Homo sapiens: one gene and its partner. The protein of the gene in region 1 interacts with the protein of each later gene in a pairwise test. Each region holds a gene or a part of one and is shown in the gene's direction. Other genes may lie near its edges.

Evidence for each region. The genes of interacting proteins can lie anywhere in the genome.
Region 2: the proteins of GORAB (region 1) and BNIP2 interact in binary tests that used the Homo sapiens proteins (3 or more experiments, as listed by UniProt).

What each region holds. Positions count from the first base shown.
Region 1 is NC_000001.11:170,542,160-170,545,914, forward strand, and holds part of GORAB (RAB6-interacting golgin), read left to right. Parts: intron 1-331; coding exon 332-433; intron 434-2,545; coding exon 2,546-2,686; coding exon of another isoform or gene 2,687-2,690; exon of another isoform or gene 2,691-3,632; intron 3,633-3,755.
Region 2 is NC_000015.10:59,668,664-59,672,418, reverse strand, and holds part of BNIP2 (BCL2/adenovirus E1B 19 kDa protein-interacting protein 2), read left to right. Parts: intron 1-1,104; coding exon 1,105-1,236; intron 1,237-3,056; coding exon 3,057-3,143; intron 3,144-3,428; coding exon 3,429-3,527; intron 3,528-3,755.

The sequences.
Region 1 (3,755 bases):
ATAATTAACTTACACAAATTTCTTTGTACTCCTAAACACATGCCACAGTATTCTGGCTTCCAGTTTGTGGATTCCTAGATTATATATATAATGGATTTCAGAGGTCCAATTTATGTAAGCCTCTTTACTTTAGATCGTAGTCTTTGTTCCCATTAGAGCAAAATAATGAACTGCAGATGGGTTTCTTTTAAGAGGACTTTTGAAAGAACATATACATAAATCTTCTTGATTAAATTTTATACTTAGAGGACTGAGACTGGTAAGGTGTTGGATAGGGTAGCAGTTTCTTTTTCTTTCATAAACTCATTTTTATGCTTTTTTTGCCCCCTAGGCAAGAAAAATCTCGTTGGGAAGTCCTCCAACAAGAACAACGGCTAATGGAAGAGAAAAATAAACGTAAAAAAGCTCTTTTGGCTAAAGCTATTGCAGAAAGGTGAGGCACCTGAACCAGGAGAGGCTGTTTGTAACCTGTAACCAGTTGTGTCATGTGTTATATTTGTTTTCCCATGTCTCTTTTAATAAACTGATATTTTTTCTTCAACCATTACTTTTAAGACTAACTAAACAAATTATGCTTTATAAGTGATACTGAAATACTAGTTATAATTTATTAAAGAGAACTTTTTAAGCATAGAGCATATTAAATTTGTAAATATAGTTGCAGTTTTAAAGACCTTCATTAGTGCTCCCAGTTTTAACCATCTACACATTCATAAGGGAAGCAGTAAATAGCTATCAGTATATGTAAATTAGCAACAAATGCAAGTTTTAATTTTTATGTGGGGAGGCCTTAATCATTTGATGTGTAGAGGAATAAGGTTTTCTACATAAGTGACATACTCCCATGAATCTTAATTGGATTTCCTATGGGCATTTTTCTTAAATAATTTGCCCCGCCTCCACAAGTAGAAGATACATGATATAGTTTAACTTTTTATTGATGACTCAGGGTCATTATTATGAGCACTGTGTGAGATTCAATTTTTCTTTCACCTTCCAGTGTCTATCAGCAGCCCCTTCACATTTACTGCATTGTACCAGCCGCACACAACAACATTCCCATTGGAATCATTCTTCCCATCCCCCACCACTCTTGCTGAGTTTGTAGTTTCTGTCTAATCTCCTGTGGCCTTAGGAAACTAAACTTAGTCAATATATCCATGGTTGTGAATAGTGAAAACTAAATGCAAGGAAGTACATTTTCTTTTTAGACTTCCAGAAAAGTCTGTCAAACTGTTACTGCTTGAAGCTAGAGTATGTGTAGGGGCAGGAGAAGAGGGAAGAAGGTGATGGGTATAAGAGTAGTTCAGAATTTTGTCTGCCAGAGGAGTGAGTGTAGTTGAGAAATGGTGATTTTTCTTTTTCTACTACTGGTACACCTTGATCTTTCTTGAAGCATAGGAAATAATGCAACTCACTGAGTTACTATGTTTCAAAGGAAAAAACCAGCAGATAAAAGAGTAGTGCCCTCTTTTTTTTTTTTTTTGGTAAGTGATTATTTAAAAATAATTAAAGCATTTTAGTAGTCTTCAATTTCTAAGAGATGGGAAGGCTGTTTTCTGTGGTTTTACAAAAAGATGTACAGGCTCAGCAGTTCTTCTCATAAGTGCTTTTGATTTTAGACAGCACCAGTATAAACAGAAGTGTAAGGAAATACAACGTTTGAACTATTAATAAATGGACAATGAAGTACTTGACGTAAAAGAATCATACTGTTAAGTGAAGTTTTGTAGGCAGAAAGGAAGGGTAAATGCCTAAGAGTAGAAATCAAGAGAATGTGCTATGTAACATGGTGGATTTATGTGGGGATTTTTCTTCTTCCTTCACAATGTGTGTGAAAATTTGAAATGAGTGAAATCATGATTAAAGGGTTGCTTTTTTATTTGTTTGTTCCCTTTCTTAAGTATATATTGTACTTGGGAGAGGGGATTGAGAAATTATGAGGTTGGATGTGCTTTTAAATAAGGAAAATGAGTGTTTTGATGTTCAGCTCCATAAAGAATTTTCGTAACTAGTAGTTTTCCTAGAGAACAAGAATCAAAGCAATAAAAGTTTGGGGAAATGGGTCCCAAGAAAGTTAAAACTAAGTGGATGTTCTCAGATATATAAAGAGGTGTGGTTTAGTATAGACATCTATCTGTTCTTAATGTCAGGTAAGTATCAGACAAATGAAAATGGGCTTAGCAAGAGGAAGAATTAAAGACTAGAAATTTGGAAAGCTCTGTTGAATGTTTCAATGTAAAGGGAACACAGATATATTCTTTTAGTGTTTGTTCTCTTTACAGAATGAATATCAATCTAAAATGAACTATTTGCTGAGTTTTTTTAGACTTATTTGTTACTTTATGAAACATGCAAATATAAAATTTCAAAAACTCAAATGTTAACCAGCTTTTACTTTATTTCAATTTTTCTGATTTTTTTCTAACTTTTAAAATATAAATTATAAATGTATATGCAGTATCTTGCTTTTTCACTTACATTGTATATGGACACATGGTTTTAAAATGTTCTTATTTTCCCACTCACATACCTGATTTTCTAGATCCAAAAGAACTCAGGCAGAGACCATGAAACTAAAGCGGATCCAGAAGGAGTTGCAGGCTTTAGATGACATGGTGTCAGCTGACATTGGAATTCTCAGGAACCGGATTGATCAGGCCAGCTTAGACTATTCATACGCTCGGTGAGTTGGGGAAATTGAATCTGAACAAGGAGTATGATTTAATTAATGTTTATTGCCAGCTGTTCCAGGGGCTTTTATGTATATCATCATTGAAGCCTCAAAACAACCCCATTCAGTGCTGTATTTATTCTTCTTTTGTGCTAATTCAAGTGTCTCCTCTTCAGTGAAGTCTTCCTTAACTCTGCCCTACTAGTTAACCTTGTTCGTGTGCCATTAGAGCAGTTCTTGCATTATTTATTTACGTTTTAGTCTTTGCTGCGAAACCCTCAGCTATTTAATGTTTGGAAGTGTTTTTGCTCATCTTTCAGCATCTAGCAAAGTAAATATCTGAGTGGTTTCGCCAAAACTGTTACTCTGACACCAAGTCTGTGTTCTTTCCATTAAAATTTTTGATATCTGATATAGTCCTATAGGATTGAAGTCTAGTCCTCACTTTAGCTTTCATCAGAGTAAGAGGATCTAGTTTAGTTTTTAAAAGCTTATGAATATTTTAAGCATATCCTCTGTCTTGGAAATTTGAAATATTTTCTCTTTTTTTTTCCTTTCAATTATACTCTGTATGAAATGGTTTAATATATGTTTCCTTGGTTTCAACCATTGGCATTTTTTAAAAGAGAAAAAATACCATGGAGTATTTTTAAAATGAACTAACACATGTAATGAATTACATGGACTTTGCAGACAGATAAAAGGGCAAAAAAATATGTCCAATTTCAGGGTTTTCAGCCCTTTCAACATTGCTTTAATCATCCTGGTTTGTCTTTTTTCACAAGGGAATGCTGTGTTAATGACTCAGTTTTCTATCTTACTCTGTTACACTAGAAATGAATCAGAATGCCTCATTAGGCCAGGGTAAACCACAACATCAGAATGTTTATATAACAATTTATTAAAGCGGAAATGCTTGATTGTGGTTTTTAATAAACTGTTGAGTGTTTAAGAAAGAGTCTTGTGGTTGTCCTTGTGACTTTTGTAATTGTTGTTGGACCATATGCTATTAGACTTAGAGTTGTCTTTATTAATTAACTACTTAAAAGAATGCCATCAGTAGCTGATAACCAGAGGTTCC
Region 2 (3,755 bases), on another chromosome or scaffold:
GCCTGTAGCCCCACCTACTCAGGAGGCTGAGGTGGAAGTATCACCTGAGCCCATGAGGTCAAAGCTGCAGTGAACTGTGATTTTGCCACTGCACTCTACCCTGGGTGACAGAGTAAGACCCTGTCTCAGAAAAATAAATATCCCAGATCTTTTCACGTGCAAGTTTGTGAACAACAGAATGAAGGTTAAAGTAAAAGTATTTGTTACTAGATACAGGACTAGATGAGTCCTTATTCTTTGATATTATGGAACGATAGTTTTCCAATTCAAGAGAAAAATTGTCATTTTAAAACTGGGAAATATATCTCAGATTATTTGTTCCAACTTTGTTTCGTTTTGTTTTGAGATGGAGTTTCACTCTGTCACCCAGGCTGGAGTGCAGTGGTACAACTACGGCTCCCTGCAGCCTTGACCTCACGGGCTCAAGCCATCCTCCTACCTCAGCCTCCCTAGTGGCTGGGACTGCAGGCACATGTCACCACATCCTGCTGACTTCTTAATTTTTGGTAGAGACAGAGTCTCACTATGTTGCCAGGGTTGGTCTCAAACTCCTGGGCTCAAGTAAGCCACCATGCCTTACCTGTCCCAACTGTTTTATGTTAACATTTGCAGGCACATTAAGTGTAAAGAAGTGATTTTTGTCTCAAAATCATGTGGCTAAATTACATTTACCCCTAGAAGGCCAATATAATTGAGCCAAATCAGTTCTTTTTCCACAAGGTCATTCTATTTCTCAGGTTAGTGCAGTTTTTAAAAACCGTATTGTGGAAAGTTTCAGACATACACAGGGGTAAAGAGAAGTATATCAAATCTTCATGTATCAGTCACTTCAACAATTACCAATTTATACTTTGTTCCCACTTCTAACCCCCAGTTTACAAGTTTGAAGCAAATCCCAGGAGCAAATCATTTCACCTAGAAACATTTCAAAATATATCTCTAAAAAATAAGATAATCGTAATACTAGCTAATGCGGTTTGAGCATTTTCATTGTTGCTCTCATTGTAGGAGAGAGGAAGGAATTGTATAATGGTACAATTTAGAGAACCTAGTTCAGTTATGCACAGTGATTTTTAAGGCTTAAACTTAATTTGTTTTTTACAGATATGTTATTGGCACTTTGGAGCTATTAGTAGCAGAAAACTACATGATAGTTTATTTAAATGGTGCAACAACTCGAAGAAAAATGCCCAGTCTGGGATGGCTCAGGAAATGTTATCAGCAAATTGATAGAAGGTAATACAAATACAAGTTGAAAGCTAGTCTGAAAAAATTTTATAATGGCTTTAGGAAATCAAACTTTGTTTTTCGTTGCTATTTTTTTTTTTTAACTTTTTTTTTTTTTGAGACGGAGTTTCACTCTTGTTGCCCAGGCTGGAGTGCAATGGCACAATCTCGGTTCACCGCAACCTCCACCTCCCAGGTTCAAGCGATTCTCCTGCCTCAGCCTCCCAAGTAGCTGGGATTACAGGCATGCGCCACCACGCCCAGCTAATGTTGTATTTTTTGTAGAGACGGGGTTTCTCCATGTTGGTCAGGCTGGTCTCGAACTCCTGACCTTAGGTGATCCACCCGCCTCGGCCTCCTGAAGTGCTGGGATTACAGGCGTGAGCCACCGCGCCCAGCCTTCTGTTGCTATTTTAAAACACCATTTATTTTTTAAATTTTATTTATTTATTTCATGGCAGGTTTCTGTTTTCTAAAGATAGCATTTTAGAATATTGTGAGGGAAATCAATTTTGATTTTTCTATAAAGAATAACCTTAATTCTTCAAACTTACAAAGTAGCTTTATATTTCTCCTTATTTAATTGAAGACTTTCTCCTTATTTATAAGATGCAATTTTCTCCACATTGAACACTTTTTTTCCTATTATTTACGTCTTGGCAAAGGATGGAGAATGTAGTATGTTTCCTATTTCATTACATTGAGTTTTGCCTAATTTATAGTGCTTAGCATGTTTTATGTTTTTGTTTTTGTTTTGTTTTGAGACAGGGTCTCACTCTGTCATCTAGGCTGGAGTGCAGTGGTGCAATCTCTGCTCACTGTAGCGGCAACCTCCCAAGCTCAGGTTATTCTGCCACCTCAGCCTCCCAGGTAGCTGGGACTACAGGCATGTGCCACCACACCCAGCTAATTTTTGTATTTTTTGTAGAGACAGCGTTTTGACATGTTGCCCAGGCTGGTTCTTGAACTCCTGGACTAAAGCGATCCACCTGCCTCAGCCTCCCAAAGTGCTAGGATTACAGGCATGAGCCACAGCGCTCAGTATTTATGTTTTTTAATGGTGCTTATTTAGTTGTAATCTTTCTTTGGAACAAGCTTTAGAAGTGTTTTGTCTTGGGAGTTAGTCATCAGTACTTAATGGAAGGAATGTGATCTTCCGATTGGTTTGATCTTGCTGTGGCTAATTTAAATCAAGTCAGACCCATTAATAGGTTTCTCTTCACATCTAAATTTGACATTGGCTAGCTCTTATGATTATATATGTATCTCACTTTATGTGTGAAATATGCATAATACAAAGAGTATTTAGTCATTTAAAAAGGAGAAGTCTAGGATAAAACCTTTAATTTTTAATCAAAACTTTAAATTCCTTAAGAATAGGAGTTAGATCTGATTTGTTTTTGTTCCTGTGGTCATCTTCTCCACTCACACTTCTCTGCCTGCACAGTGCTTTTCATGGTTTTGAAGAACTTAGCACCAATTTCTCCCTAGTCTTGGAAAATGAGAATAGTTTACTTTTACATTCAGTATTGGCCTCTTTCCCTGTTTACAGAGTCCTGAAGACAAGTGAATGTGTATGCTAGGAGACATTTAGTAACAGGCTATACTGTGGACGTAAATCTGGCCAAATGAAGTAAAGTTCATTTCATAGCAGTAGGAGGGACCATAAGAATTTAAGAGTGCATTTTCTTGTCTACAGGGGTATCACACCTAATTGAGAACTTTTGGGTGAGATTTTTCAACTATTATTTTGTATAAACTTGCAGCATTAGAATTTATAGAAATTTTTAATTTTCTTTGTGTGTGTGTGTTTTTTTTTTAAACTCCAGGTTACGGAAAAATCTAAAATCCCTAATCATTGTACATCCTTCTTGGTTTATCAGAACACTTCTGGCTGTTACAAGACCATTTATTAGGTAATTTTTGAGAGCCATTGACTTTAATTTTATTTTTTTTATTTATTTATTTTTAGTTAACACATAATAACTATACATACTTATGGGATACAGAGCTATATTTTGATATGTGTATACATTGTATAATGATCAAACCTGGGTGATTAGTACATCCATCACCTCAGACATTTATCATCTTTTTGTGTTTTGAACATTCAAAATGACATGATTTTTGTATCTTGTAAACATTGTATCCATTGTATTTGTCAGAAATATGGAAGTAATTATTTTTATTTTCTTCCATAGCTCGAAATTCAGCCAAAAAATTAGATACGTGTTTAATTTGGCAGAACTAGCAGAACTTGTCCCCATGGAATACGTTGGCATACCAGAATGCATAAAACAGTATGTTTTGTTTTATTTCCTTAATTGTATTGGATCTTAACATTTTGATGTGCAATGGATAATACTTTTCAATACTCATTCTTTATGTATTATATTTTATAACTGTGCGCGCGCGCGCGTGTGTGTGTGTGTGTAACAAAGAAAAAGAGGAAGAAGCCATTTTCCCACACCATCCCCCTAAGTTAGCATTTTCTTCAGGCTGTCAGTTGAAGAACTAGGATAAATTAT